Linked DNA regions of Homo sapiens. The main gene of each other region encodes a partner of the protein of the gene in region 4 in a complex. Each region holds a gene or a part of one and is shown on either strand. Other genes may lie near its edges. The genes, in order: THBD, SERPINA5, FGG and F2. A codon is read from its position in the direction of its gene.

Region 1 (7,666 bases), on a different chromosome or scaffold from region 4:
CTGGCCTTCAGCTTCCACACCTGGGCAATGGGGACAGTCACTATGGATGTCTCTAGGGCAGATGGGAAGCCTAAGACAGGACATGCTTCAATTTCTTCCCTATGCCTCCATCCCTGATTTTTTTTCACAATTGCTTATTGTTATTAGTGGTAGAAATGCTTGGCTGGAACAAATTAAATCCAACAGACATTTGGTGAGTCCCTACCATGGAAAAGAAACCATGCTGGATATTGAATACAATCAGATGCCGAATCCAAATTCTAGGGACTTGAGTGTTTTCTTTTTTGCTAAAATTTATTGAGAGCTGACTACGGCTCCTCTGTTCTAAATGCTTTACATGTATAACCCATTTAATCTTCATCCTAACACTTTGAAGGAGGGACTATTCCCATTACACAGTCAAGGAAACTGAGCTACACGGGGAGGGGTTATTAGTCAAATCTTAACAATAAACAAAAACTTGTGAATGCCGGAGCTGGGTCTCCAGTGCAGCCAAGTCGGCTCCAAAGTCCACACTCTTAATTCACCCTGAGGCTCTGAGGTCCCCCATCCTTGTCTTTGCAGGTGAATGTGAGAAAATCACCCTGGAGAGGACAAAGAAACATCTACCACAGGTGCTCCAATAAGCTCTGGGCACTGTCTAGTTACAAAGCGTGCTGTTAGGTGTAAGGGGATACAAAAATGTGTGGGAATCTGGAGTATAAGTGCAGCAAAAAGTGTGGTATATGCATGATTAGGTACAGGGCAGGGAGGGAGTGGTGAGTACTAAAGAGCTGAGAGAACGACCTGTCTATGGGAATCACAGACAGATCAGTTCTGGTTGGGTTATTCAGAAAACTTGCTGATGGGGAAGCTTGAACTGGGACTTGAAAGAATGGAAAGATTTCAGTGGGTGAAGAGCCTGGCAGACGAGAATGTTGCTAGCAGAGGGAGAGACATGAACTACAGGGTGGAGATGAGCGGACAAGGTGCTTCTCTGACAGTGAGCAGGAGCCTCCCTTGCCAGGATGTTTCCTCATTCATGGAGACCAGCAGAACACTGGTCCTTGAAGCCTTGTGAGGTGCAAGGGGTGCAGGCTCTGGGTCCAAATTCCAGCATAGCCCCTTGAGTGCAAATTTTCTCATCTGTGGCCACAGAGTAGAGGCACTATCGCGAGCATCTTCAGTGCGGAGGGGAAAGAGTATGGGCTCTCCCAGCGGGTGGGAGCAGCACTGAGGGAGTATGAGGATCAGAGTAGCCTCAGCCACGGTGGAGAGCTGGAGAGATAAGCAGCAAGGAAAAGAGCTGGGGACCCAACTGTCTCAGCATAAATTGAGAAGGCAGGAGCAGTGATCAGGGGAAACAAGACACAAAAACTAGGCAGTGGATGAAGGAGAGCAGAAAGTCAAAGGCAAGTGCATGGTTTAAAACCTCAGTGGACCAACTATTGATACTGGGAAAGATGGGGTAAGGGTCCCTTCTAGAATACTCCCTCCCCAATCTCCTTGGACACTGCTATCACTGCCAGGGGAATGGGTAAGTTCACCAAAAGGTGGGTTGTAAAGAGATGATGAAGACCACCAGCAAAACCTTGAGAATGGCCACTCTAGTGGGTGGTACAAGAGGATCCCAGGGGCCTCCCCAAGGCTCACAGGAGAGGAAGGGAGGAAAACATGTGTCTCAAAAGTAATTGGAGGAGGAGCCTTGAGAATGGTGAAGGGTCACAAGTGCAAATGGCACCAAGGCTTCTAGAAGGATGGCTGAAAACAAGATTTTGGCAACAGTATTTAGGACCAGATGGGTGTTCTTCAAGGGAGCTGTTTCAGGAGTAAAGCAAGTCTGCTGGTGGGCCAGAGTGAGGGTGCTGGGCCAGGAACTGGGCCAAGCATTGGGAAGTGGATGTGTTATCTGCAAAGGGATAGGAAGGAGTGGCCCACCCTGGTGTGCAGGGGGCACAGATAGGAAGATAGGGATGGGGCAAGAACACAGACAGGGGACCTTCAGTCACCAGAAGGTAGTCTAAAATATGCAAAGCCTCCAAGGTATTGGCTGGAGAGGAAAAACAAAGCGGCTGAGGGCAGGCCCCACAAGGCAAAGGTATCCTGAGGGTCAGGGGTAAAGCCCTTACAGGTGGGAAAGCCAAGTGGGTCATGTCCACCCATCCTTGTGTAGGGCAACCCAGACACTGTGGTACCCCCCATGGGACAATGCTCTGCTTCTATCTGTTGTTGCTCTAGTTTCTTTCTAATACAGAAACATCCAACATCTGCACCTCCTCATATAGGGTTGATCCAAGTTTCACAGACATCACTGAGTTCTTAGTGGACTCAGCTATTGGGGCTGTTCTCACACTTTTTTTTTCTTTGCAAGAATCAGCAATGGGTGCAAGTGGACCTGTGTAGGACGTCCAGTGAAACATTGTGTTGGTGAATCAGCTAGAATCCATCCAAGAACTCAGCCAGCCTGGTGTGGGGTGAGATCTGATCCTTGAATGTCCCTCAGTGGCTTTTAGGGCTGGCAGGTTCAGAAGGGCCCTCTCATCACCCCCCCAGGGCCTCATTCCTTGTTTAACACTTTGCTATCACAGTCTTGAATCCTTGTAATTGAACAATGGACCCCACATTTTCACTTTGCACTGGTTTCTGATTCTGTAACCGATCCTGTCCCCCTCTCTTGTCTCATTCACTCTGGGAATTGTCCCCACATTCTGAGACCTTTCAGCAGTGCCCCAACGAGGTTCCTGCCCTTATCTGAAGCTCCACCCTCACCCCCATGGCGGCACCGCAGGCAGCCCTGCTTTTGCGTCCCGCGTAGGCAGGCTGTGCACCGGAGTCACGACCCCCTGATTCAGCCTAGGCAGCCACAGCTTGACTGCTCCCGCCGGACAAGCCCTACTGTGCTATCTGCCGCTCTTCCCTTCCTCTTCCCAGGGGGTCCGCGTCAGGGGAGGCGCAGCTGTGTGCATTCCGGGAGCTTCAGACCCCCGTGTCCAGCAGCTCCTTCGTTTCCTGGGTGCTGGGGCGGCCTTCCCAGCGAAGAGCTCAACTCAGCGGGACGTTTGGAGGCTCTCTGCCCCAAGGCGCTGGGGAGTGTGCGGCGGGACAGTCGTGCTTGCCTTTTTCACTTTCAGAGTGTCCACGCCCCACCCGTTTGGTCACTGCAGGTCAGTCCAGTCCAGCCCGGCCCACCCCACCGGTGCGTGTCTGTCGCACGTGGCAGACGCCATACTCTCTGTTCTTGTTTAAAGCCCAGGATCTACTGGGCCCTGGAGGCAAGAGGTGAACGCAGCGGAATCCACGCTGAGCTGCCCGGGAACGGAGCTTCCAACCCCAGAAGGAGGACTCTGTGCTCCTACACCTTAACCCTTTTTAGCCCGAAACTTCTCCAACTTCCTTGGCTTTGTTTAGAGCTCGACAGCGCCGCCCCCTGGCGCTCGTTGTGAGGACAGTAGAGGAGAGAGGCAAGGGTGTTTTTAAACAGTTTGCCTCTCACCATTATGGGGGCGACCCGAGGGGGAGACCCACTCTTCCGCATTCCCGGTAAGTGAACCACCGGAAGAGGTCGAAAGTGACGGATTCCCATGTCCTCCTCCAGCCCCCCCCCCACCCTGCCCATCCACAGGACGGTGGCTCTTCAGTGCCCTTTGCCGAGCAAGTGGCGTTTCTATGCACGTGGGTATCAATTCGGACTCTGGACGAAATGGAAACCTCCTTAGCCGACCCGGGTGGGATCAGCTGGGATCCTGCGCGCTCCCCTGGGGGGTTGCCAGCCACTCTGTTGGGGTGCAAGAAGCACCATCCTTCGGAAGCTGGGCCGAAACTGGCCAGGCTGACTCGCTCCCACGCGCCCGCCCCTACCCGGCGCCGCAGCAATTCACCTGCCACCGCCTCTGAGCCGGGTCCGGACTTCGGCGCCCTGACAGTGTCCCCGCGACTTCCCCACCCGATGAGATGGGGTCTGGCGTTGGCCAGTGCGTGTCCAGGGACTCGCGGGTCCCTGGCCAGCCATGGGGCAGAGGGCGCTGGTGTTAGGCCAGTCTTCCCCACCCTGCCCCGTCACCCCAGCCACACCCACTGTCCTGTGAGGCCAAGCGCGCTCCGCTGGTTTCCTGAGCCAGGCACCTTGGCCGCGGACAGGATCCAGCTGTCTCTCCTTGCGATCCTGTCTTCGGGGAAGTCCACGTCCTAGGCAGGTCCTCCCAAAGTGCCCTTGGTGCCGATCACCCCTCCCAGCGTCTTGCAGGTCCTGTGCACCACCTCCCCCACTCCCCATTCAAAGCCCTCTTCTCTGAAGTCTCCGGTTCCCAGAGCTCTTGCAATCCAGGCTTTCCTTGGAAGTGGCTGTAACATGTATGAAAAGAAAGAAAGGAGGACCAAGAGATGAAAGAGGGCTGCACGCGTGGGGGCCCGAGTGGTGGGCGGGGACAGTCGTCTTGTTACAGGGGTGCTGGCCTTCCCTGGCGCCTGCCCCTGTCGGCCCCGCCCGAGAACCTCCCTGCGCCAGGGCAGGGTTTACTCATCCCGGCGAGGTGATCCCATGCGCGAGGGCGGGCGCAAGGGCGGCCAGAGAACCCAGCAATCCGAGTATGCGGCATCAGCCCTTCCCACCAGGCACTTCCTTCCTTTTCCCGAACGTCCAGGGAGGGAGGGCCGGGCACTTATAAACTCGAGCCCTGGCCGATCCGCATGTCAGAGGCTGCCTCGCAGGGGCTGCGCGCAGCGGCAAGAAGTGTCTGGGCTGGGACGGACAGGAGAGGCTGTCGCCATCGGCGTCCTGTGCCCCTCTGCTCCGGCACGGCCCTGTCGCAGTGCCCGCGCTTTCCCCGGCGCCTGCACGCGGCGCGCCTGGGTAACATGCTTGGGGTCCTGGTCCTTGGCGCGCTGGCCCTGGCCGGCCTGGGGTTCCCCGCACCCGCAGAGCCGCAGCCGGGTGGCAGCCAGTGCGTCGAGCACGACTGCTTCGCGCTCTACCCGGGCCCCGCGACCTTCCTCAATGCCAGTCAGATCTGCGACGGACTGCGGGGCCACCTAATGACAGTGCGCTCCTCGGTGGCTGCCGATGTCATTTCCTTGCTACTGAACGGCGACGGCGGCGTTGGCCGCCGGCGCCTCTGGATCGGCCTGCAGCTGCCACCCGGCTGCGGCGACCCCAAGCGCCTCGGGCCCCTGCGCGGCTTCCAGTGGGTTACGGGAGACAACAACACCAGCTATAGCAGGTGGGCACGGCTCGACCTCAATGGGGCTCCCCTCTGCGGCCCGTTGTGCGTCGCTGTCTCCGCTGCTGAGGCCACTGTGCCCAGCGAGCCGATCTGGGAGGAGCAGCAGTGCGAAGTGAAGGCCGATGGCTTCCTCTGCGAGTTCCACTTCCCAGCCACCTGCAGGCCACTGGCTGTGGAGCCCGGCGCCGCGGCTGCCGCCGTCTCGATCACCTACGGCACCCCGTTCGCGGCCCGCGGAGCGGACTTCCAGGCGCTGCCGGTGGGCAGCTCCGCCGCGGTGGCTCCCCTCGGCTTACAGCTAATGTGCACCGCGCCGCCCGGAGCGGTCCAGGGGCACTGGGCCAGGGAGGCGCCGGGCGCTTGGGACTGCAGCGTGGAGAACGGCGGCTGCGAGCACGCGTGCAATGCGATCCCTGGGGCTCCCCGCTGCCAGTGCCCAGCCGGCGCCGCCCTGCAGGCAGACGGGCGCTCCTGCACCGCATCCGCGACGCAGTCCTGCAACGACCTCTGCGAGCACTTCTGCGTTCCCAACCCCGACCAGCCGGGCTCCTACTCGTGCATGTGCGAGACCGGCTACCGGCTGGCGGCCGACCAACACCGGTGCGAGGACGTGGATGACTGCATACTGGAGCCCAGTCCGTGTCCGCAGCGCTGTGTCAACACACAGGGTGGCTTCGAGTGCCACTGCTACCCTAACTACGACCTGGTGGACGGCGAGTGTGTGGAGCCCGTGGACCCGTGCTTCAGAGCCAACTGCGAGTACCAGTGCCAGCCCCTGAACCAAACTAGCTACCTCTGCGTCTGCGCCGAGGGCTTCGCGCCCATTCCCCACGAGCCGCACAGGTGCCAGATGTTTTGCAACCAGACTGCCTGTCCAGCCGACTGCGACCCCAACACCCAGGCTAGCTGTGAGTGCCCTGAAGGCTACATCCTGGACGACGGTTTCATCTGCACGGACATCGACGAGTGCGAAAACGGCGGCTTCTGCTCCGGGGTGTGCCACAACCTCCCCGGTACCTTCGAGTGCATCTGCGGGCCCGACTCGGCCCTTGCCCGCCACATTGGCACCGACTGTGACTCCGGCAAGGTGGACGGTGGCGACAGCGGCTCTGGCGAGCCCCCGCCCAGCCCGACGCCCGGCTCCACCTTGACTCCTCCGGCCGTGGGGCTCGTGCATTCGGGCTTGCTCATAGGCATCTCCATCGCGAGCCTGTGCCTGGTGGTGGCGCTTTTGGCGCTCCTCTGCCACCTGCGCAAGAAGCAGGGCGCCGCCAGGGCCAAGATGGAGTACAAGTGCGCGGCCCCTTCCAAGGAGGTAGTGCTGCAGCACGTGCGGACCGAGCGGACGCCGCAGAGACTCTGAGCGGCCTCCGTCCAGGAGCCTGGCTCCGTCCAGGAGCCTGTGCCTCCTCACCCCCAGCTTTGCTACCAAAGCACCTTAGCTGGCATTACAGCTGGAGAAGACCCTCCCCGCACCCCCCAAGCTGTTTTCTTCTATTCCATGGCTAACTGGCGAGGGGGTGATTAGAGGGAGGAGAATGAGCCTCGGCCTCTTCCGTGACGTCACTGGACCACTGGGCAATGATGGCAATTTTGTAACGAAGACACAGACTGCGATTTGTCCCAGGTCCTCACTACCGGGCGCAGGAGGGTGAGCGTTATTGGTCGGCAGCCTTCTGGGCAGACCTTGACCTCGTGGGCTAGGGATGACTAAAATATTTATTTTTTTTAAGTATTTAGGTTTTTGTTTGTTTCCTTTGTTCTTACCTGTATGTCTCCAGTATCCACTTTGCACAGCTCTCCGGTCTCTCTCTCTCTACAAACTCCCACTTGTCATGTGACAGGTAAACTATCTTGGTGAATTTTTTTTTCCTAGCCCTCTCACATTTATGAAGCAAGCCCCACTTATTCCCCATTCTTCCTAGTTTTCTCCTCCCAGGAACTGGGCCAACTCACCTGAGTCACCCTACCTGTGCCTGACCCTACTTCTTTTGCTCTTAGCTGTCTGCTCAGACAGAACCCCTACATGAAACAGAAACAAAAACACTAAAAATAAAAATGGCCATTTGCTTTTTCACCAGATTTGCTAATTTATCCTGAAATTTCAGATTCCCAGAGCAAAATAATTTTAAACAAAGGTTGAGATGTAAAAGGTATTAAATTGATGTTGCTGGACTGTCATAGAAATTACACCCAAAGAGGTATTTATCTTTACTTTTAAACAGTGAGCCTGAATTTTGTTGCTGTTTTGATTTGTACTGAAAAATGGTAATTGTTGCTAATCTTCTTATGCAATTTCCTTTTTTGTTATTATTACTTATTTTTGACAGTGTTGAAAATGTTCAGAAGGTTGCTCTAGATTGAGAGAAGAGACAAACACCTCCCAGGAGACAGTTCAAGAAAGCTTCAAACTGCATGATTCATGCCAATTAGCAATTGACTGTCACTGTTCCTTGTCACTGGTAGAC
Region 2 (7,570 bases), on a different chromosome or scaffold from region 4:
AGAAATCTTGCTCCCTCTGGGCCAACTCTCTCTACTTTTCAGTAAAACCACTAATTATTAAAGACATACTAGACACTCCATAAATATTACTATGTTTAACCTTCACCAAAAGTAAGCTCTCTATTTTACAGAGTTTTCCAAAAGTAAACTCACTCTATTTTACAGATTGAATAGACTGAGGCTAAGTGAAGTGGAATAGCTTGTTTCAGCTACTGAGTGATGGAACCGGAATTAAAATCCAGGTTCCTCTGACTCGTGCACAGCCTGTCTCTGAGTGGCTCTGAGGAGTGATACCTCGTTCCTCCTCGACCTCACCTCCTGGTATCCCCAGGCGGTTCACCTGTATTAGCTCATTTATACTTCTCTACAACAACATGGAGTTAGTATCATTATCCTAACAGTGCAGAAGAAACAGAGGGTCAGAGAGGTCACTCAAGAGGCAGTGGAGTCCTCAGTGCTTGTTTTACGTTTCTTAGTTTCAAATCCAGGGTTTGCCATCGCACTCTTGGGCCTCTGGTGGAAATACATGGCTTTGACAGAGACAGGTGAAGCCCTGGGAGCCTCCCATCCCCCAGACCAGCCTCTACTGAGTGCTTTGAAAGCTTGGTTGGGCTGCCCCTCTCCTGGTCCCTGGCTTTAGTGTTTCTGCAGAGGGAAGAGAGAGGATCAGTCATGTTCACCTGTCATCTCAGGCCAAGGTGAATTGAGGTGGGAGGTGGTGGGGATGTGATGGGTAGGCCCTGGTCAGTCTTCCCGCTGGCCCACCACCATCCCCGAAACCCAAATCTGCTGACTGATATTTCCCGTGTTGGGCAGTGAAGTCCTGCCCAGTTCTACCCTGGACTCAGCTGTGGGAATTGTGTTAGTGAGGACGGTCTGTCCAATATCTTCTAATTACAAAAAGGGATGTGAGGCTTGGAGCCCAGGCAGAGATGAGAGACAAAGTCACAGCTTCCTCTAGATCCTAAAGACCCAGGAACAGAACTTCCCAGAAGAAGTAATCTTGACTTCCTGTTCCACTCCAGCCCATCAGCAAAGCTTGTCCGTTCTATCTCCAAAACAGGTCTTAAAGCTGCCGCCTTTCCCTGGCTTTCTTACTGCCCCCAGTGGAAGCTCCCTTCATCTCCCCCAGGGCTACCCCAGTAGCTTCCTTTCTTTGCCCTGAAAGGCTTTCTATATACAGCATATAAAAGAATCTCCTTCAATCATAAATATGGTCACAGCGCTTCCTCGCCTAAGAAACTCATGGCCAACTCCTGTGTTTCAGATAAATGCTAAACTTTGATTTGTGCTCTAACCCACTAGGGCTGCTGTGACCTGGCTGCACCTGGCCTGGACCTGCTCTGCCCTGGATCACGTGATACCCCCAGGCTCACTCTTCTTTTCCCAGTTTCTCAAACACAGCAAGTTCTGTCCTAACTCTGGGCCTTTGCATACCTTCCCTCTCTACTGGAACCCTCCCCCAACCTTTCTCACTGAGGCCAACTTCTGCATAGGCTGCAGGCTTTTGCTTAAATGTCACTTCTTTGCAATACCTTATCACACTGGACCTTTTCCCCTTCCATGGCTATTCTCTGGAACAGTCCCTTGACTCTTTCTCTCAAAGCTCTTTCAATTACACATGTGCCTTTATATATGCATTTGTCATTGACATTTTTCATTCCGGCCTCTCTCTCCATGGGACCCTCATTTGTGCTGCTCTCACCTTCAAGAGCTTGCAGTCAGGAGAGATGCTCCATAAACCTTTGTAGAATGAATGAATGAATGAACTGACCAGTCTCCTTCTCTGTAATTCAGAGACATTAGACTGCAAGCTGGACACTGAGCAGTGGAAAAAGCCAGGCTGGCCACCCAGAGCTGAGCTCTCCCCGCCCCGGAGCTCACTTGCCAGGTGACCTTGAACAACTCCCTCCCTGTCTCTCAGCTCTGGCTTCCTATTATTTCTTTATTAAAACCACTTGATTGAGACATGACTGCTATTCATAAAGTTGCACATATTTAATGTCTATAACCTGACAAGTTTGGAGATGAGTCTACATCTGTCACTTATCATCACCGTCAGCACCATGAACACGTCCGTTACCTTCAGGCATCTGCCGCCTGTATTCTTCATGCTTCGGTTTCCTGATCTATGAGCAAGGACACTGGCCCAAGGAAGCAGTTTGCTCTTTTATTGCTGCATATCTGGCCAAAAGCCCTACCTTCAGAAAAACTAAAAATTCTGCTTACTTTATTTCTACATTTTGTTCATTTAACAAACTGCCAAATTGTTACTGTCCTTCATGAGCAGCTGCCATGACCGGCCTGGGTGGCAGCCTCCAGGCAAGATGCCCTTATCTCACGGAAGCCGATAATATTGGATCATTGTTCCTGATTTCTAAAGGCCCAAGACTCCAGGCACAGAAAACAACAGAAGCTGCCACTTACTGAGCACCTCCTATCCAGCCGACATTTTGTCCCCATGGCCTTATTTCAGGGTCTCTCAACCTTGATCCTGTTGACCTTTTGAACAGGATGATGCTTTGTGATCTTGTCCTGGGCATTGTGGGATCATCAGCAGCATCGCTGGCCTCTAGATGTCACTAACCCCCACCCCCCTTCCAGTTGTGGCAACCAAATGTGTCTGCAGACATGGCCAGATGTGCTGAGTGAGAGCACCCGCTGTATTTAATCTTCAGTCACACCATCCAGAGGGTGTAATTATTTCCATCTTACCTATGAGGAAACGGAGGCTCTGCCAGAGTTAGTGTGGAGCATAAGGTCACAGAGCTCGGGGGACCCACTCACCTCTGCTGCCTTGGATACCTGAAACTGCAGAGATGAGACTCCTTCAGAGCTTTGCAGACCCCAAACCCCAAAACTCTAGAGTCCATCCTCTCCTCGCCTCACATGCCCTCAAGCCCTGGGGACCTCCCTTTGCGGCATCGGTACTTACTGTGTCCCGTAGCTGAGTGTGCACACAGTGGAGGTGGCAGTCCCTCGGGCTCAGAAAGGGCAGAGGGCTGGCTGGATTGCAGCCAGCATTTGTCACTGACCACAGCCGGCCCTGTCTCCACCCCTCCCTGGCCCCGCCCCGGGACAGCCCCTTCCTTTCCTGGCAGGTTTCCGGCCAGCAGGCCTGCCTGCAGACGCAGCTCCCTGATCCCGAGGCTTTCACCACGATGCCCACTCGCTGCCCCCCAAGCCTTACACCACCAGCTGGGCCATCATTTTCCTGGAATGGCATGGGCACTCCTGAGAGACAAGACCAAAGAGCCTCCCTATTGTTGGCATTCCAGAGACAGGGAAAGGGACAGCTCTAGCAAACCCTCTCTTTTTCCAGGTTCTATTCCTTGGTTTTCTGCAGCTAATTTCTTGTAGATTAGGGGGGGCATATGCTTGAACCTGAGAGCTCCCCACAGGCCTGCTATGCTGACTGGGTCATAGATCCCAACAGTTAGATTCTAGTGGAAATGAGAGGGATTGAGAGACTCACCATGCCTGCAATGAATGGGTCACTGTAGCCAAGCCTGTGATTGCACCAATCACTGAATTGGGGCTCAGAAGAATGAGGGGAATTTTCAAAGTCATGCATTTAATTAGGGGCAGAGTGGGGTTGGTGCATAAGTGGCTGACTCCCAGGCCAGTGCTTGTTGCTGAGAAAGGAGTGGATTCAGGATTTCTATGGGCTTGGGTAGATTCTCCCTTTCTACTTTGAAATCCTGGTTCCCTAACTCAGCCATACACTCTTAAGAGCATTTCCAAGACACCGGTGCAGAGTGCTGTCTCAAGCCTGGTTATGTTTCTAAGGTCCCCTTGCCTGGGGGACATGGTGTGTTGTGCATGGCCGTGATCATGGAAGGTTATGTGGCTGCAGGTGGGGTGTGGAGTTGGTAGAGCAAATCAGAGGTAATACCTGGAAAGTGATTTTGATGTTCAGCAAACACTGTCCATCGACAACCTTTAAGACATTTCCTCTTCCTTCTTCATGGCTTTGGGGCCCAATTATGTGGCTGTTGGATATCCACAGAAATAATAAGAACTAGTATTTATTCACACTTTTAAAAAGACCACCTACTACACCAAGTGCTTTAAACGCATTATCTTTTTTCATCCTTACAATAACCCTTCAAGGGAGACACTGATCTCAGCCCAGTCTAGAGATGAGCACTGGGTATCTAGAGCTAAGTCCAGCTACTACTACATCTCTAGAAGCAAGCACAATACCTACTGGGTATCTAGAGGAAACACAATCACTACTGGGTATCTAGAACCAGGCATGATCACTTCTGGGTATCCAGAAGCAGGCAGGATCACTACTGTAGGATATCCAGAAACAGGCGGGATTGCTACTGTAGGATATCCAGAAACAGGCAGGATCACTACTGTAGGATATCCAGAAACAGGTGGGATTGCTACTGTAGGATATCCAGAAACAGGCGGCAGGATCACTACTGGGTATCCAGAGGCAAGTCCCACTACTACTAGGTATTGAGACCTTAGTTTTTGCTCAGTGCCCTCACAGTTCATTCCCATTGAATTGGAGAGAAGACAGAACACAGCAGGTCAGGGAATCAGCCCCTAATCCCACAGTTAGTAAGAAGAGGCTCTAACAAGGGAACCTGAGTCCCTCTTTTTCTAGGTTTGGCTTTCTTCCCATTATGCCATGTAACATGAGCAAGAGTCCATTATCTCATTGACCTAGAGATCCCTAAACCGTACCTACAGGATGGAAATCAGCACTGCATACCAGTTATGGGTGAGTAATGGAACCCCGAAGTTATCCGTGTCCTAATACCCAGAACCTGTGAATGTTATCGTTCTATGACAAAAGGGACTTTGCAGATGTGATTAAGTTAAGGATCTTGAAGAGATTGTCATGGATTATCCAGCTGGGTCCTAATTACAATCACAAGGATCCTTGCAAGAAAGAGGCAGGAGATTGGAGTCAGAAGAAGGTGATGTGATGGTAGAAGCAGGAAGGGAAAAGTCAATGTGATGTCGGAGCCAGGTGCCAAGGAGTGAGGAAGCTTCTAGAAGCTGGAGAGGGAAAGGAATGGATCCTCCCCTAGAGCCTCCAGAAAGAGTGGAGCCCTGCCAATATCCTCATTCTAGCCCAGTGAGGCCTCTGGCCTCTTCAACCATGAAAGAAGAATTTTGTGTTGTCTGAGCCACTGTTTGTGATAACTTCTTAGAGCAGCCATCAGAAACTAGTGTAACACCGCCCAAATGGGTTCCAGATGAAACTACTTTGGGAAAGGTGGTTAGCCCACCTTTCCTGTGGGCCGTCTCCAGCCTGTGTGTGCTGTCTGTGCTCTGACCACCCACGAGGGAAAGACATCACATGCCGTTTCCCAAGCTTACATCTTAAGGAATGTCTTGAGAATTTGGGGGAAAGTCTGAGGTAACTCATGACTCCCACTGCCATGCAGAAAGAGCTCTGAAGGAATCAGGACTGAGGGTGGTGCGTTTTGAAAGGAGAGATTTGGAAGGAGTCTCGGGGGCATGGCACCCCAGTGTATCAGTCTTCTCTGGCTGCTGTAACAAAATACCTCACACTGGCCTGGCTTAAACACACACTGGATGTCTTAAACAATAGAAATGTATTTTCTTACAGTTCTGGACGCTGGAAATCCAAGGTCAAGGTGCCGTCAGGGTTGGTCTCTGGTGAGGGCTCTCTGGCACTTATAGATGGTTGCCTTCACTCTGTTCGCCCATGACCTCTTCCCTGTGAGCCCACACTGGACACACACACACACACACACACATACACACACACACACCCCCCAAGAGAGGGATTGGGCAGAGGAAGAGAGCGAGCTCTCTGATTACTCTTCCTCTTCTTAAAAGGGCACCAATCTTATCAGATTAGAGTGCCACCCTTATAACCTTATTTAACTTTAATTACCTCCCTAAAAGCCCAATCTCTACAGTCACACTGAGGGCTAAAACTTCAACATAAGAATTTGCGGGAGAAGCAATTCAGTCCATAACACCCAGGGTGACTGCCTAGGGAGGGCCAGTGGCTAGAATATGAGAATTTGGTGTCCTAGAGCCTAGCAGGGCATGGGAAAGGATCAAAGTGGGGAGGTGGTTTCTGGGAGAAGGGCAGGGAAACCAATGTTGGCCCCTGTGATGCCTTGCCCTGCTGAGCACAGGTGCTCCTCTGCTTGGCCCTCAGCCTCCCTGCCCTCTGTTCCATGGTATTGGGCCTCATGGGGATTGAGTGAGACCAGTTCAAGAGCCTACAAGATGTCACTCAGGGCCTGGCTGATGCTTCTGCTCTGAAGTGGGGCACTGGTCTTAATTACTAGTAGGGTGACCAACCATTCCAATTTGCTGGGACTGAGTAATTTCCGATGGTGTGGGATATTCAGTGCTAAAACTGGCAAAGACCTTGGCAAACTGGGATGAGTTGGCTACTCGAGTCATTAGGCTCTTGCCTTGTTCTGGGATCCAGCTTCTAGCTCCTGATCTAGGTCTTGTGTCTTAATAACTTTCCCATTTTTCTTATCTTCTCTTCTCAGTCTTTGTGGGGCTGTCAATCTTGCCTTAAACATCTGCTATGATCCTCCTGTAATCAGCCACCATGCTTCCCTCTGCCCATCATCTGTTTGCCTGCATGAGCTAAAGCATACTGGTACTACCTTTCTTCTACCATCCTTCCTTCCTTCCTTCCTTCCTTCCTTCCTTCCTTCCTTCCTTCCATCCATCCACCCATATATTCATCCATTCATCCATCCATCCATCCATCCATCCATCCATTCATCCATCCACCCATCCATCTATCCATTTTTCCATCCATCCATCTATCCATCCATCCATCCATCCATCCATCCATCCATCCATTTATCCATCCACCCATCCTTATAGCCTTCTATCCATCCTTCCTTCATTTCATCCCTCCAGTATCAATGTTTATTGAGATCTAACCATGTCCCAGAAAATACCCCTGGCCTCAAGAAGAGAGATCAATATCTCAATAGATGAACTAAAGATAGAGAGTCGATGCTCTGACACATGTCTCCACAATAAAGACACACAGGGAGGAATGGTCCATTCTCCCGTGGTTGGAGAGAGGAATGGAATAGGAAAAGCTTTGTGAAGGTGGTGACCTTGGATCTGGGTTTTTGAACCTTGTCTAGGTTTTTATCAGCCCTGGCTGGGTGGAGAGGAGTGAACAGACAGAATAGCTTACAGCACAGCAGTGGGAGGCTGCATTTTGGGCTGAGAGAACCACAGGAGTGATAGCAGTACAGGCTAAGGGGGTGGTGGGGCACCGGGAGCCCATCAGAGAGGAGGAAGGGAGGACAGAGAGAAGCCAGATCAGGGCCAGATGGAGGGCTTGGAAGTCCTGCTGGGTTGGGAACCAGGGTTGAACTTCATTCTGTAAGTAAAGGAGGGATAAATTATCTTGGGCTGTCACGGGTATGGTCACCTGGAGATCAAGACAGGACCAAGTGACACTGCTGTGATAATCCAAGCGAGAGATGATGGTGGTGTGGGCCAAGGAAGCGGGGGTGAGGCTGGAGAGGAGGAGACACATTAAGGAAGGAGAATGGACCTGGTGTGAGCTGAGGGGTAGGTTTTG
Region 3 (7,940 bases), on a different chromosome or scaffold from region 4:
AATAACTACAGTTTTTCTCAAACAGGGGCCTGTCCACTTTCAACATAGGCCAGTATTTCTACTCAAAGGCTTAAAAAGTTTCTTCTTTCCGGAGCACATTCTTGTGAATATAACTTGGCCCCTTGGTTGGTGGTGGTTTATTTTTCCCCCCAAACTCATTTGCTCTTGTAAATCTCCTGCTAATCATATTTAGTCATGAAAATTCTTTCATGGGGTGAGAGATTTAAAATCGTAGATTACACAAAGATGGAAAAACACAAACAAACCAGTAGCAGATACCAATGTGGCACAGCAAAACACTTAAATCCAACTTCTCTGTTCAATTTGTCTCAATCCAGGGCACCTCAGATCATTCCTTAGTCTCAAACTAGTATTAAAAATGGCTAATTTCCAGCCTCTTTGGCCTCTGTAATTGCCAATGGGATAATCCTTCTTTCTCTAGGCACCCAGTACTTTATTTCCTAAATTCCAATCACAGCAGAGATTTTTCAACATCCCTGCCGCTAGGACAGATCCCCCAAATGACACATGTAATGAAACTTTATGAAGTTAAGAAGTGCAAAACTCAACCTGTGGGTGCTGTTCTGCTGCCAGTGAGGGAGTCCATTTTACTTGTGCCCAATGTTGTTTTTGTCTTTGATTTACATAGTGAAACTAAAAGCACATTGTTCACAGACTACCAAGAAACTTTTGCGTTTTCACTTTCCCTGGGCTATTTTTATACACAAAGCAAATATTCTAACAGACAACTCTGTTGCCCTTAATGGGATATTTTTACTATTAGGTTGGACTGGCTTTCAGTATGCCAATAGGTCATTTTCTTTCTGCCAGTTTTTAGGAAATCCAGTTCTGAGGGTTCAGGCTATAAATTTAGCTTAGATCTAGAAATGGTTTACTTGTTAGAAAAACAGATATATCATTGTCGCCATTGATTTGAGCTTCCTTGACCACGCAGTGGCTGTCTCTCCCTTTAACTTACTGATGGAATTCAATTTATCAAGTCCTATTAAACTTGAACCATGCAGTTAGCATTGAAAAACTGCTTCCATCTAAAATTGGACTGAAGCCAGGTGCATTGGCACGTGCCCATAGTCCGAGCTACTCAGGAGGCTGAGGCAAGAGGATCACTTGGGCCCAGCAGTTCAGTTTGAGGCCAGACTGAGCAACAAAGCTAGGCTGCATCTCTAAAGAGAGAGAAAAAAAAAAAAGGACCATAAACACAAGCTAATCATAAAACAACACAAATCTAGGTTTGAGAAATACTCAAAGACTGTAAAAGATCATTCACAAAATCTTGTCTCTAACCCAGAGAAGAAGATAGATAAGTTGGTAGATAGATGTAAATGTGTGTTCAAATAATCATGCACACAGTTATGTAGATGCACACACACATCTTTAAAATCCATTCTATCAGTGAATAACTTTGAGTCTCATAACACCTTGTATCTGTGTATTATTTTAAATTAAGAAGGGCTTCATGGTTGTATTAAGATTCATGGTTAAGAGCACAGGCATTGGGCCCCATGGGTTTGAGTTCCTGTTCTGGCACACTGACCCTGCATATGTTACACAACATCTCTAGGCCTTTCTTTTTTCATTATAAGATACAGGTAATTATATCTACTTCCTAGGCTTGTGGTGAGGATTAAATGAGAGAATATACATGACAACAAAAACTATACTACCACATAATATCTAGCATAAAGAAGATGCTCAAAATTGGTAGTTCTTTCTATTATTCCTTAGGGCTATATCATTTGTCACTAGGTCAAGAAGTCTTCTACATAATCAAATTTAAATTCAGCAAATAATTTTGGAGCAAAGATGAATGTAACAGACTTGGCTCACAGAGTAAATTACCAATATACACGAAGACTGTTAGCTGTAGATTTGTGTTTTCAAATCAGAACACAAACGGTTGGACGATAGGGAATTTGGGACATTATTATTTCAATAAACAAGCCCACTGACCTCAGAGTTACAGTAAATGATTATTTTGGCTTAAATACTACCTATGCTATTATCTCAAAAAACATACCTGGAAGTAGAAGAACTGTGATTTAAGAAACATTCTTCATTCCTGGAATTCATCAATCATTTATCATTTTTCAAAGAAAAAATTGGCCCAAACATGAAAAAACTAGTTAAAATTTAATAAACCTAAGTGATACTAGATTGAATGCAGGGCCAATGTAGACCGCTAAATCACTGTTGACCATTTTTTTTTCTCAGAGAGCAAGCATCTTGTCTTATATGATTTGGATTTAGGACTTGAGATTGTAGTAAAAGGAAATTATTTTCTCTAAAATTGTGATAACACATCTGGATTCCAATATAAGTCAGTTAAAAGCCTGTAATACAAGTATTCCACTTCTAAAATGGGATAAGATAGAATTTCTAATGTCCTCAATTTAAATGTTTATCAACTTTGTGAATATTATATATCTTAACACAACCAATGAAACTTTATGACATTAAGGAGCTCAGAACCCAACCTGTGGCTGCATGAATTGTTACCCTAAATTCAACAAACTAATATTTTATGGTCTTCAGCAAAAAGAACCACAAAGACATGCTCTGTCTAAACACACTTTGCTTGAACATTCTTACAGATAGGAAGTATACCTTCTCACAAGGCATGCAATCCATTTATATTATCATTTGATCTTTGATTGGTAAAATCAATTTGGATAGAATTTCCTAAACTAAACGACCAGGTGCTTTCTTCTCTGGGGAATCTTACAGAAGGAGACTGCAGTTAGTTGCAACAGATTTTTTATTAAAGAGAATTTCTGTAGCTAGAACAACAAAGCTTGTTCCCTGTGAACCAAATCTACCAATAATAGCTCTATTAAAAGAGTTTCCTATTTACATAGATTTTATACCAAATATATTTGGTAATTCATAAACCTTACAAACATTTACTTAACACTTACCATGAATTGGGTAATGTGCTCAACACATTATCCCACTAAATCTTAGTAATAGCCCTATTAAGTAAATACCATATCATAAGTATTATCTCTCTTTTACTGACATGGATAATGGAACTCAAGGAGATTGAGTAACTTGTACTGAATCACACAGCCAGTAAATTGTAAAGATGGGACTCAAACCTAGGGAGATGGACTCCAGAGCCTTAACAACTATTTATTTATACATTCTCCAATTGAGCTACACACTTCTTGAAGGCAAAGGCAATGCCTGAGTCACCTTTCATGTTCAAATCATATTAAAAAGTTAGCAAGATGTAATTATCAGTGTACTATGTAAATCTTTGTGAATGATCAATAATTACATATTTTCATTATATATATTTTAGTAGATAATATTTATATACATTCAACATTCTAAATATAGAAAGTTTACAGAGAAAAATAAAGCCTTTTTTTCCAATCCTGTCCTCCACCTCTGCATCCCATTCTTCTTCACAGAGGCAACTGATTCAAGTCATTACATAGTTATTGAGTGTTAACTACAACTATGTTAAGTACAGCTATATATGTTAGATGCCGTAGCCACAGAAATCAGTTTACAATCTAATGCAGTGGATACAGCATGTATACATATAATATAAGGTTGCTACAAATGCTATCTGAGGTAGAGCTGTTTGAAAGAATACTAATACTTAAATGTTTAATTCAACTGACTTGATTGACAACTGATTAGCTGAGTGGAAAAGATGGATGAGAAAGATTGTGAGACTTAATTGGCTGGTGGTATGGTGATATGATTGACAATAACTGCTAAGTCAGAGAGGGATATATTAAGGAGGAGAAGAAAAGCAACAAATCTGGTTTTGATGTGTTCACTTTGTTATAATTATTGATTATTTACTGAATATGAATATTTATCTTTGTTTTTGAGTCAATAAATATACCTTTGTAAAGACAGAATTAAAGTATTAGTATTTCTTTCAAACTGGAGGCATTTCTCCCACTAACATATTTCATCAAAACTTATAATAAGCTTGGTTCCAGAGGAAGAAATGAGGGATAACCAAAAATAGAGACATTAATAATAGTGTAACGCCCAGTGATAAATCTCAATAGGCAGTGATGACAGACATGTTTTCCCAAACACAAGGATGCTGTAAGGGCCAAACAGAAATGATGGCCCCTCCCCAGCACCTCATTTTGCCCCTTCCTTCAGCTATGCCTCTACTCTCCTTAGATACAAGGGAGGTGGATTTTTCTCTTCTCTGAGATAGCTTGATGGAACCACAGGAACAATGAAGTGGGCTCCTGGCTCTTTTCTCTGTGGCAGATGGGGTGCCATGCCCACCTTCAGACAAAGGGAAGATTGAGCTCAAAAGCTCCCTGAGAAGTGAGAGCCTATGAACATGGTTGACACAGAGGGACAGGAATGTATTTCCAGGGTCATTCATTCCTGGGAATAGTGAACTGGGACATGGGGGAAGTCAGTCTCCTCCTGCCACAGCCACAGATTAAAAATAATAATGTTAACTGATCCCTAGGCTAAAATAATAGTGTTAACTGATCCCTAAGCTAAGAAAGTTCTTTTGGTAATTCAGGTGATGGCAGCAGGACCCATCTTAAGGATAGACTAGGTTTGCTTAGTTCGAGGTCATATCTGTTTGCTCTCAGCCATGTACTGGAAGAAGTTGCATCACACAGCCTCCAGGACTGCCCTCCTCCTCACAGCAATGGATAATGCTTCACTAGCCTTTGCAGATAATTTTGGATCAGAGAAAAAACCTTGAGCTGGGCCAAAAAGGAGGAGCTTCAACCTGTGTGCAAAATCTGGGAACCTGACAGTATAGGTTGGGGGCCAGGATGAGGAAAAAGGAACGGGAAAGACCTGCCCACCCTTCTGGTAAGGAGGCCCCGTGATCAGCTCCAGCCATTTGCAGTCCTGGCTATCCCAGGAGCTTACATAAAGGGACAATTGGAGCCTGAGAGGTGACAGTGCTGACACTACAAGGCTCGGAGCTCCGGGCACTCAGACATCATGAGTTGGTCCTTGCACCCCCGGAATTTAATTCTCTACTTCTATGCTCTTTTATTTCTCTCTTCAACATGTGTAGCAGTAAGTGTGCTCTTCACAAAACGTTGTTTAAAATGGAAAGCTGGAAAATAAAACAGATAATAAACTAGTGAAATTTCTGTATTTTTTCTCTTTTAGTATGTTGCTACCAGAGACAACTGCTGCATCTTAGATGAAAGATTCGTAAGTAGTTTTTATGTTTCTCCCTTTGTGTGTGAACTGGAGAGGGGCAGAGGAATAGAAATAATTCCCTCATAAATATCATCTGGCACTTGTAACTTTTTAAAAACATAGTCTAGGTTTTACCTATTTTTCTTAATAGATTTTAAGAGTAGCATCTGTCTACATTTTTAATCACTGTTATATTTTCAGGGTAGTTATTGTCCAACTACCTGTGGCATTGCAGATTTCCTGTCTACTTATCAAACCAAAGTAGACAAGGATCTACAGTCTTTGGAAGACATCTTACATCAAGTTGAAAACAAAACATCAGAAGTCAAACAGCTGATAAAAGCAATCCAACTCACTTATAATCCTGATGAATCATCAAAACCAAGTGAGAAAATAAAGACTACTGACCAAAAAATAATAATAATAATCTGTGAAGTTCTTTTGCTGTTGTTTTAGTTGTTCTATTTGCTTAAGGATTTTTATGTCTCTGATCCTATATTACAGATATGATAGACGCTGCTACTTTGAAGTCCAGGAAAATGTTAGAAGAAATTATGAAATATGAAGCATCGATTTTAACACATGACTCAAGTATTCGGTAAGGATTTTTGTTTTAATTTGCTCTGCAAGACTGATTTAGTTTTTATTTAATATTCTATACTTGAGTGAAAGTAATTTTTAATGTGTTTTCCCCATTTATAATATCCCAGTGACATTATGCCTGATTATGTTGAGCATAGTAGAGATAGAAGTTTTTAGTGCAATATAAATTATACTGGGTTATAATTGCTTATTAATAATCACATTGAAGAAAGATGTTCTAGATGTCTTCAAATGCTAGTTTGACCATATTTATCAAAAATTTTTTCCCCATCCCCCATTTATCTTACAACATAAAATCAATCTCATAGGAATTTGGGTGTTGAAAATAAAATCCTCTTTATAAAAATGCTGACAAATTGGTGGTTAAAAAAATTAGCAAGCAGAGGCATAGTAAGGATTTTGGCTCCTAAAGTAAATTATATTGAATGTGGAGCAGGAAGAAACATGTCTTGAGAGACTAAGTGTGGCAAATATTGCAAAGCTCATATTGATCATTGCAGAATGAACCTGCATAGTCTCTTCCCTTCATTTGGAAGTGAATGTCTCTGTTAAAGCTTCTCAGGGACTCATAAACTTTCTGAACATAAGGTCTCAGATACAGTTTTAATATTTTTCCCCAATTTTTTTTTCTGAATTTTTCTCAAAGCAGCTTGAGAAATTGAGATAAATAGTAGCTAGGGAGAAGTGGCCCAGGAAAGATTTCTCCTCTTTTTGCTATCAGAGGGCCCTTGTTATTATTGTTATTATTATTACTTGCATTATTATTGTCCATCATTGAAGTTGAAGGAGGTTATTGTACAGAAATTGCCTAAGACAAGGTAGAGGGAAAACGTGGACAAATAGTTTGTCTACCCTTTTTTACTTCAAAGAAAGAACGGTTTATGCATTGTAGACAGTTTTCTATCATTTTTGGATATTTGCAAGCCACCCTGTAAGTAACTACAAAAGGAGGGTTTTTACTTCCCCCAGTCCATTCCCAAAGCTATGTAACCAGAAGCATTAAAGAAGAAAGGGGAAGTATCTGTTGTTTTATTTTACATACAATAACGTTCCAGATCATGTCCCTGTGTAAGTTATATTTTAGATTGAAGCTTATATGTATAGCCTCAGTAGATCCACAAGTGAAAGGTATACTCCTTCAGCACATGTGAATTACTGAACTGAGCTTTTCCTGCTTCTAAAGCATCAGGGGGTGTTCCTATTAACCAGTCCCGCCACTCTTGCAGGTTGCTATCTGCTGTCCCTTATGCATAAAGTAAAAAGCAAAATGTCAATGACATTTGCTTATTGACAAGGACTTTGTTATTTGTGTTGGGAGTTGAGACAATATGCCCCATTCTAAGTAAAAAGATTCAGGTCCACATTGTATTCCTGTTTTAATTGATTTTTTGATTTGTTTTTCTTTTTCAAAAAGTTTATAATTTTAATTCATGTTAATTTAGTAATATAATTTTACATTTTCCTCAAGAATGGAATAATTTATCAGAAAGCACTTCTTAAGAAAATACTTAGCAGTTTCCAAAGAAAATATAAAATTACTCTTCTGAAAGGAATACTTATTTTTGTCTTCTTATTTTTGTTATCTTATGTTTCTGTTTGTAGATATTTGCAGGAAATATATAATTCAAATAATCAAAAGATTGTTAACCTGAAAGAGAAGGTAGCCCAGCTTGAAGCACAGTGCCAGGAACCTTGCAAAGACACGGTGCAAATCCATGATATCACTGGGAAAGGTAACTGATGAAGGTTATATTGGGATTAGGTTCATCAAAGTAAGTAATGTAAAGGAGAAAGTATGTACTGGAAAGTATAGGAATAGTTTAGAAAGTGGCTACCCATTAAGTCTAAGAATTTCAGTTGTCTAGACCTTTCTTGAATAGCTAAAAAAAACAGTTTAAAAGGAATGCTGATGTGAAAAGTAAGAAAATTATTCTTGGAAAATGAATAGTTTACTACATGTTAAAAGCTATTTTTCAAGGCTGGCACAGTCTTACCTGCATTTCAAACCACAGTAAAAGTCGATTCTCCTTCTCTAGATTGTCAAGACATTGCCAATAAGGGAGCTAAACAGAGCGGGCTTTACTTTATTAAACCTCTGAAAGCTAACCAGCAATTCTTAGTCTACTGTGAAATCGATGGGTCTGGAAATGGATGGACTG
Region 4 (7,020 bases):
GGCACTATATCAGGTGCTGGGGATTTTAAGAGAATCAAATACAGTCTCTGCCTTCAAGGAATTCAAAATCTCAAAAGAGAACAAAAATACAAAATATTAAAATGATTGCGGCCGGGTGTGGTGGCTCAAGCCTGTAATCCTAGCACTTTGGGAGCTGAGGTGGGCGCCCAGGCCAGGGGTTTGAGACCATCCTGGCCAACATAGTGAAACCCCCAACCTCTACTAAAAATACAAAAATTAGCTGGGGTGTGGTGGCACGCGCCTGTAATCCTAGCTACTAGGGAGGCTGATGGGGGAGAATTTCTTGAATCTGGGAGGCAGAGGTTGCAGTGAGCTGAGATCATGCCACTGCACTTCAGTCTCGGCAACAGAACAAGACTCATCTCAAAATACATAAATAAAAATAAATAATTCAATAAAGTGATTGCAAGAAAAGTTCTGTTCAAGGCACCAAGAGACCACAGGAAAATGAGTGTCTGGTTTGCCAGAAAAATGAGAGATGGCTTCCCAGGAGAGGCAGAGTTCTGCCTGGCCTGGTGGGATGCATGGATGAACAAACAAGTGGGCATTCCAGTCAGAAGAAACAATCCGTGGAAAGACCCAGAGGCATGAGAAGCTGAGCTAGCAGGGACAGGTAGACCAGGGCCAGTTGAAAAGGACCTTCATCACTTTTTCATCCTGCTGGCCAAGAGAAGCCACAGAATGGAAGCTCCATGAGGGCAGGGCTGTGACTGTCCTATTGGTTGATGTGTACTGAGCACCCGACAGTGCCTGTCATATGGTAGGCACTTAGCGAATATTTGGAGGCCACTGTTGAGTGAATGGGAGAACTGCTGGTTGCAGAGGAAGAGGGGCTGGGTGAATGCAGGTTCAGGATTGTGGACCTGCATGAGCTGGGAGGTGGGGGATAGACAACTTTGCAGGGAGAGAGGAAATAAGTCCCCAGGCTCCAAGGCTGACCGGGGTGGGGTCTCCGCAGGTAACTGTGCTGAGGGTCTGGGTACGAACTACCGAGGGCATGTGAACATCACCCGGTCAGGCATTGAGTGCCAGCTATGGAGGAGTCGCTACCCACATAAGCCTGAGTGAGTGAGGGGCCGGCCTTCCCACCATGGGCTGAGAACAGGGAGCAAGCGTACCTCAAGCCCAACAGCCTCCTGTTGGGCAATTTCCTGTTCCAGAATCAACTCCACTACCCATCCTGGGGCCGACCTACAGGAGAATTTCTGCCGCAACCCCGACAGCAGCACCACGGGACCCTGGTGCTACACTACAGACCCCACCGTGAGGAGGCAGGAATGCAGCATCCCTGTCTGTGGTAAGCTGGGGGCAGTGGGGCGGCCCATGGCCAAGGCCCGGGGGCTTCATGGGGCCTGGCAGCCTGGGATGGGAACCAAGAATACTGGCTACCCAGGCACAGTGGCTCATGCCCGTAATCCCAGCACTTTGGGAGGCTGAGGCAGGCAGATCACCTGAGGTCAGGGGTTTGAGACCAGCTGGGCCAACATGGCAAAACCCCGTCTCTACTAAAAATACAAAAATTGCCAGGCGTGGTGGTGGGCGCCTGTAATCCCAACTACTCTGGAGGCTGAGGCACGAGAATCGCTTGAACCCGGGAGGCGGAGTTTGCAGTGAGCTGAGATCCTGCCACTGTACTTCAGCCTGGGCGACAAGAGCAAAACTCTGTCTCAAAGAAAAAAAAAAGATGCTGGCCACCTTCAGAGCTGGCGTCAGTCATTCAGATCATATCTGTGCCTATTGCTCAGTAAAGTCAGGGAATCAGGGGATCTGAGTGGGGGGATCTGCCAGCCTCCTCCTCCCCCTCCCCACTCTTGACTTCCTTATGGTCCAGGCTGTGGCTCATTCCAAACATGCCTCCTTTCTGATCAAGGCACTCCTCCCTCCGGGAAGCCCTCCCTAGCCATTTCAGTCCACACACCCTGTTCTGAGTATCACAGAGCAAGCCTTGTGCAGTTTGGCCCTGCGGGATTCTGTCATTATTATTTCCTTGGTGTGTTAAGTAGCTATAGCCACCCCTTCCCTGAGGCAGACCACAATAAGCATTTCTTTTTCCCATGAGGGTTGGCAGGTGTGGCTGCACTCGCTAATGCGTCTGTAGGGTCAACTGACGGAGGTTGGCCCTGGCTGGGTGGCTCTGATTCAAATAATGGGTCCAGCTGAGTCTGGCTCCTCGTTGAGGGTTGGGCCTAGATCTGCTCCACGTGCGTTCATGCTGGGGCTGAGGCTGAAAGAAGGTACCTGGGAAAACTCTTCTTATGCTGATGACAGACACAGAAAACAATGAACAGAAAAGCGTCTTCTGTCCTGAAGGCCTGGCTCAGAACAGGCACAGTCAGCCCTGCCCACGTTCCATTGGCCAGAGCAAGTATATGTTCAAGGCCAGGGTCAAGAGGTAAACTACACCTCAGCCTGTAAAATCACAGAGCAAGGGATGTGGATGCAGGCAGGGGTAAAGAATTTGTGCCGATTACCAGTCCACAAACATGGGTTAGTGTTTGTTCTCTAGGCATCCCTGTCGGGCCCATTGCTCATTCCTGGGGTTGGTCTTTTTTTTTTTTCTTTCTAAGATGGAGTCTCACTCCCTTGCCCAGGCTGTTGGAGTGCAGTGGCCCTATCTCAGCTCACTGCAACCTCCGCCTCCTGGGTTCAAGCGATTCCCCTGCTTCAGCCTCCTGAGTAGCTAGGATTACAGGCGTGTGCCACCACTCCTGGCTAATTTTTTTTTATGTTAGTAGAGACGGGGTTTCACCATGTTGGCCAGGCTGATCTCAAACTCCTGACCTTGTGATCCTCCCGCCTCGGCCTCCCAAACTGCTGAGATTACAGGGGTGAGGCACTGCGCCCGGCCTTTTTTTTTTTTTTTTTTGAGATGGAGTCTCACTCTGTCACCCAGGCTGGAGTGCAGTGGCATAATCTTGGCTCACTGCAACCTCCACCTCCTGGGTTCAGGCGATTCTCTGCCTCAGCCTCTCATATAGCTGGGATTACAGGCACACGCCACCACGCCTGGCTAATTTTTGTATTTTTAGTAGAGACGGGGTTTCTTCATGTTGGCCTGGCTGATCTTGAACTCCTGACCTCCGGTGATCTGCCCAGCTCGGCCTCCCAAAGTTCTGGGATTACAGGTGTAAGCCACTGCGCCTGGCCCCTGGAATTGGTCTTATAGCAAGTTTATCCCAACAAAAACAGCTACTATTTACTCCCCAACCCCCATACACACGCACACACATTGATGATAAATAAGTTGCAGGCTTGCAGAAATTGACCCATCCAGGTGAACAGCCTAGTGATCCCAGCAAGCGTCCTGCTGTGCAGCTATAAAAACATGACTCCTCCAGCAGCTCCAGGCAGCCACTACCAGTTAATTACAGATGGCCTAGGAGGCCAAACCTGGTTACTATCTCTGGTTTATTATGTGCCAGACACTTATGCTGTATATTTTGTTTAATCCTCTCAACAAACCTGCAAAAGTGGCATTAGTAACCCCTTTAAAGGCAAACGGTCAGAAGCCCAGAGAGGTTAAGTAACCTGAGGTCACACAGGCAGAAAGCAGCAAGACCGGGGTTCACACCCCTGTCTGTTCCGGTCCATGTGTGGTCTCACTCACTCTGCTGCCTCCTTGCCCCTCACCCACCAGGCCAGGATCAAGTCACTGTAGCGATGACTCCACGCTCCGAAGGCTCCAGTGTGAATCTGTCACCTCCATTGGAGCAGTGTGTCCCTGATCGGGGGCAGCAGTACCAGGGGCGCCTGGCGGTGACCACACATGGGCTCCCCTGCCTGGCCTGGGCCAGCGCACAGGCCAAGGCCCTGAGCAAGCACCAGGACTTCAACTCAGCTGTGCAGCTGGTGGAGAACTTCTGCCGCAACCCAGACGGGGATGAGGAGGGCGTGTGGTGCTATGTGGCCGGGAAGCCTGGCGACTTTGGGTACTGCGACCTCAACTATTGTGGTGAGCTGCCTGGGTAGGGGGCCTGAGTTGCAGGGACAAATCCTGGTGGGAATAACAACAGCCGCTTCTGCTTATCGAACGCTTACCTCATTGAGTGCGCTCATTACAGCCTTACAGTAACCAGGTGGGGGGTAAGGTCCTGTGCCCATTTCACAGATAAGTACACTGAGGCCCCAGGAGGTTATTGCCTAGTAGCCCAACTGTGCATGCACGCTTAACCTCTGCACCAAATGGCCTCCAAGGCCCGTAGGGGAATTGGGGGGATCTAGGGGATGGGTGAGGAATGGCCCAGCCCAGTCCCAGCCGGTGCCTGGGTCCCAACAGAGGAGGCCGTGGAGGAGGAGACAGGAGATGGGCTGGATGAGGACTCAGACAGGGCCATCGAAGGGCGTACCGCCACCAGTGAGTACCAGACTTTCTTCAATCCGAGGACCTTTGGCTCGGGAGAGGCAGGTGAGGTAGTGGGCATCCGAGGGGATGCGGGGCTGCGGGGCTGGTGGCCAGGACTTGCCCCTCACTGCTTGGCTTGCTCTGCAGACTGTGGGCTGCGACCTCTGTTCGAGAAGAAGTCGCTGGAGGACAAAACCGAAAGAGAGCTCCTGGAATCCTACATCGACGGGCGCATTGTGGAGGGCTCGGATGCAGAGATCGGCATGTCACCTTGGTGTGTCCTGGAGCCCTGCGCTACCATTCACTCCTGGGGGCAGGTGTGCTGCTGGACCCCCACCCTCAGGCCCTGCCTGCAGGCCTGGGCTTTACAGATGACAACAGCTGAGCATCCAGGATCCCACCAACTCCACACAGCAGCCACATGAGATGGGTTGTTTACTTCTTTTTTTTTGTTTCTTAGATGGAGTCTTGCTCTGTCACCTAGGCTGGAGTGCAGTGCTGCAATCTCGGCTCACTACCTCGATCTCAGCTCACTGCAACTTCTGCCTTCCGGGTTCAAACGATTCTCTTGCCTCAGCCTCCTGAGTAGCTGAATTTACAGACATGCGCCACCACACCCGGCTAATTTTTGTATTTTAAGTAGAGACAGGGTTTCACCATGTTGGCCAGGCTGGTCTTGAACTCCTGACCTCAAGTGATCCACCTGCCTCAGCCTCCCAAAGTGCCGGGATTACAGGCATGAGCCACCACACCCGGCCCATGGGTCCTTTACTTCTAAGCAGATGGTAAAGCTGAGACTGACGGAGCTGGTGGCTCACCTCCGCGCACAGCTAATGGGTTTGAATCCAGTTCTTCTGATTCCAGAGCTGTGCTACGCTATGTGAACTCTGGACTGGAAGGACCTAGTTAGGGGGTGCAAAAAGCAGGAGGCAGGTCAGGTGCAGTGGCTCACCCCTGTAATCCCAGCACTTTGGGAGGCCAAGACAGGAAGATCACTTGAGGGCAGGAGTTCGAGGCCAGCCTGGGCAAAATGGTAAAACCCCGTCTCTACTAAAAATGCAAAAATTAGCCAGGTGTAGCAGCATGTCCCTGTAGTCCCAGCTACTAAGGAGGCTGAGGCGGGAGGATCGCCTGAGCCCAGGAGGCTGAGGCTTCAGTAAGCTGTGACTGTACCATTGCACTCCAGCCTGGGTGACAAGAGTGAGACCCTGTCTCAAAAATAAATAAATAAATAAATAAAAAAGTGTGAGGCAGCCCCTCAGCATCACACGGAGGCTCCAGGCCCCAAAGGCGGCCAGCCCAAGCTTGGATCTGGGCCCCGGAGGCAGCTCTGCCCAGCTGGGTTCTTAGACCTGGGATTGTTACTTCTAGGGCTGGTGTAGAGGCAGCCCCCTCATCCTCAGCTCCTAATGCTTCCTGCTGCCCCTCCCAGGCAGGTGATGCTTTTCCGGAAGAGTCCCCAGGAGCTGCTGTGTGGGGCCAGCCTCATCAGTGACCGCTGGGTCCTCACCGCCGCCCACTGCCTCCTGTACCCGCCCTGGGACAAGAACTTCACCGAGAATGACCTTCTGGTGCGCATTGGCAAGCACTCCCGCACCAGGTACAGAACTGGTGGCCCGTGGGTGTCTGGCAGGGGTCTGAGTCCTCCAAAGCGATCATGAGGGGCCCTGGTGGCTCCGGGACACATAGGATGTTCTGTATACCCCCCAGAATATAACATCCCAGCAGTCTCTGCTGGAAAGCCCATTTGGTCACGTCCTGACTGAGGCTTGGAGCTGCGGGGAGAAATCCGTCTGTCTCCTGGTCCCTCCAACACTAGGATATAGCCCATGTGGGAGTCTCTGAAAATAGAGTCTGTCTGGACTAGGGCGTGCAGCCTGTGCCCCTGTCCCCGTCCTCCAGGCTGTCTGACTCCAAAGCCCTGCACGGCTTTAGGCCCAGGAAGAAACACCCAGGGGGCTGCCATGGCAGGAACCAGCCCTATCCCCTCCCTGGTGGCCTGCAGGACACACTGTCTCCCAGACCCCAAGGGCAGGCAGTTTCCTGCTCCTTGCTGGGTGAACCTGCAGCTTCTCCATTTCTTTCTTGGGGTCTCTGCAGGTACGAGCGAAACATTGAAAAGATATCCATGTTGGAAAAGATCTACATCCACCCCAGGTACAACTGGCGGGAGAACCTGGACCGGGACATTGCCCTGATGAAGCTGAAGAAGCCTGTTGCCTTCAGTGACTACATTCACCCTGTGTGTCTGCCCGACAGGGAGACGGCAGCCAGGTGGGCCACCAGATGCTTGTTAGCTGAGGGGCAGAAGCCAAGTTCTGGGCCTGGCTCTGATACCAAGTAGCCTTGCAAGAGCCCCTTTCCCTTTTCCAGGCCTCGGTTTCTTGGAGTGAACCCAAAAGTTCTTTTCAGTACTGGCGTTTTATTTTTTATTTATATTTATTTATTTACTGACGGAGTTCCACTCTTGTCTCCCAGGCTGGAGTGTAGTTGTGCGATCTTGGCTCACTGCAACCCCACCTCCTGGGTTCAAGCGACTCTCCTGCCTCAGTCTCCTGAGTAGCTGGGATTACAGGCTAATTTTTGTATTTTTAGTAGAGACTGGTGGGTTTCACCGTGTCGGCCAGGTTGGTCTCGAACCCCTGACCTCAAGTGAT

Evidence for each region.
Region 1: the proteins of F2 (region 4) and THBD are in contact, whole or in part, in a crystal structure (PDB 1DX5), measured with the Homo sapiens proteins. Residues at the interface, in NP_000497.1 of Homo sapiens: Phe382 (codon at 5,809), Ser385 (codon at 5,818), Pro386 (codon at 5,821), Gln387 (codon at 5,824), Leu423 (codon at 5,932), Arg425 (codon at 5,938), Thr432 (codon at 5,959), Arg433 (codon at 5,962), Tyr434 (codon at 6,465), Arg436 (codon at 6,471), Asn437 (codon at 6,474), Glu439 (codon at 6,480), Lys440 (codon at 6,483), Ile441 (codon at 6,486), Met443 (codon at 6,492), Lys470 (codon at 6,573); in NP_000352.1 of Homo sapiens: Ser424 (codon at 6,103), Cys425 (codon at 6,106), Glu426 (codon at 6,109), Cys427 (codon at 6,112), Tyr431 (codon at 6,124), Ile432 (codon at 6,127), Leu433 (codon at 6,130), Asp434 (codon at 6,133), Asp435 (codon at 6,136), Thr440 (codon at 6,151), Asp441 (codon at 6,154), Ile442 (codon at 6,157), Asp443 (codon at 6,160), Glu446 (codon at 6,169), Asn447 (codon at 6,172), Gly449 (codon at 6,178), Phe450 (codon at 6,181), Asp479 (codon at 6,268).
Region 2: the proteins of F2 (region 4) and SERPINA5 are in contact, whole or in part, in a crystal structure (PDB 3B9F), measured with the Homo sapiens proteins. Residues at the interface, in NP_000497.1 of Homo sapiens: Arg383 (codon at 5,812), Pro386 (codon at 5,821), Glu388 (codon at 5,827), Leu389 (codon at 5,830), Leu390 (codon at 5,833), Cys391 (codon at 5,836), His406 (codon at 5,881), Cys407 (codon at 5,884), Tyr410 (codon at 5,893), Pro412 (codon at 5,899), Trp413 (codon at 5,902), Asp414 (codon at 5,905), Lys415 (codon at 5,908), Trp455 (codon at 6,528), Glu457 (codon at 6,534), Asn458 (codon at 6,537), Leu459 (codon at 6,540), Asn506, Arg541, Ile542, Asp562, Ala563, Cys564, Glu565, Gly566, Asp567, Val588, Ser589, Trp590, Gly591; in NP_000615.3 of Homo sapiens: Gln241, Lys295, Lys296, Arg297, Thr368, Ile369, Phe370, Thr371, Phe372, Arg373, Ser374, Ala375, Arg376, Leu377, Asn378.
Region 3: the proteins of F2 (region 4) and FGG are in contact, whole or in part, in a crystal structure (PDB 2HWL), measured with the Homo sapiens proteins. Residues at the interface, in NP_000497.1 of Homo sapiens: His450 (codon at 6,513), Pro451 (codon at 6,516), Arg452 (codon at 6,519), Arg461 (codon at 6,546), Arg486 (codon at 6,621), Ala489 (codon at 6,630), Ala490 (codon at 6,633), Leu493, Ile530, Val531, Glu532, Arg533, Cys536, Asp546, Asn547, Met548, Phe549, Cys550, His605, Phe607, Arg608, Leu609, Lys610, Lys611, Trp612, Lys615; in NP_068656.2 of Homo sapiens: Pro439, Ala440, Glu441, Thr442, Glu443, Tyr444, Asp445, Ser446, Leu447, Tyr448.

What each region holds. Positions count from the first base shown.
Region 1 is NC_000020.11:23,046,672-23,054,337, reverse strand, and holds the start of THBD (thrombomodulin precursor), read left to right. Parts: upstream 1-4,665; 5' UTR 4,666-4,833; coding exon 4,834-6,561; 3' UTR 6,562-7,666. UniProt on the Homo sapiens protein: Endothelial cell receptor that plays a critical role in regulating several physiological processes including hemostasis, coagulation, fibrinolysis, inflammation, and angiogenesis.
Region 2 is NC_000014.9:94,576,856-94,584,425, reverse strand, and holds the start of SERPINA5 (plasma serine protease inhibitor preproprotein), read right to left. Parts: upstream 3,001-7,570; 5' UTR 2,936-3,000; intron 2,812-2,935; 5' UTR 2,716-2,811; intron 1-2,715. UniProt on the Homo sapiens protein: Heparin-dependent serine protease inhibitor acting in body fluids and secretions. Inactivates serine proteases by binding irreversibly to their serine activation site. Involved in the regulation of intravascular and extravascular proteolytic activities.
Region 3 is NC_000004.12:154,609,641-154,617,580, reverse strand, and holds the start of FGG (fibrinogen gamma chain isoform gamma-B precursor), read left to right. Parts: upstream 1-4,924; 5' UTR 4,925-4,971; coding exon 4,972-5,049; intron 5,050-5,145; coding exon 5,146-5,190; intron 5,191-5,379; coding exon 5,380-5,563; intron 5,564-5,682; coding exon 5,683-5,776; intron 5,777-7,383; coding exon 7,384-7,514; intron 7,515-7,817; coding exon 7,818-7,940. UniProt on the Homo sapiens protein: Together with fibrinogen alpha (FGA) and fibrinogen beta (FGB), polymerizes to form an insoluble fibrin matrix. Has a major function in hemostasis as one of the primary components of blood clots.
Region 4 is NC_000011.10:46,722,201-46,729,220, forward strand, and holds part of F2 (prothrombin preproprotein), read left to right. Parts: intron 1-979; coding exon 980-1,085; intron 1,086-1,181; coding exon 1,182-1,318; intron 1,319-3,658; coding exon 3,659-3,973; intron 3,974-4,297; coding exon 4,298-4,426; intron 4,427-4,510; coding exon 4,511-4,637; intron 4,638-5,795; coding exon 5,796-5,963; intron 5,964-6,463; coding exon 6,464-6,637; intron 6,638-7,020. UniProt on the Homo sapiens protein: Thrombin, which cleaves bonds after Arg and Lys, converts fibrinogen to fibrin and activates factors V, VII, VIII, XIII, and, in complex with thrombomodulin, protein C. Functions in blood homeostasis, inflammation and wound healing.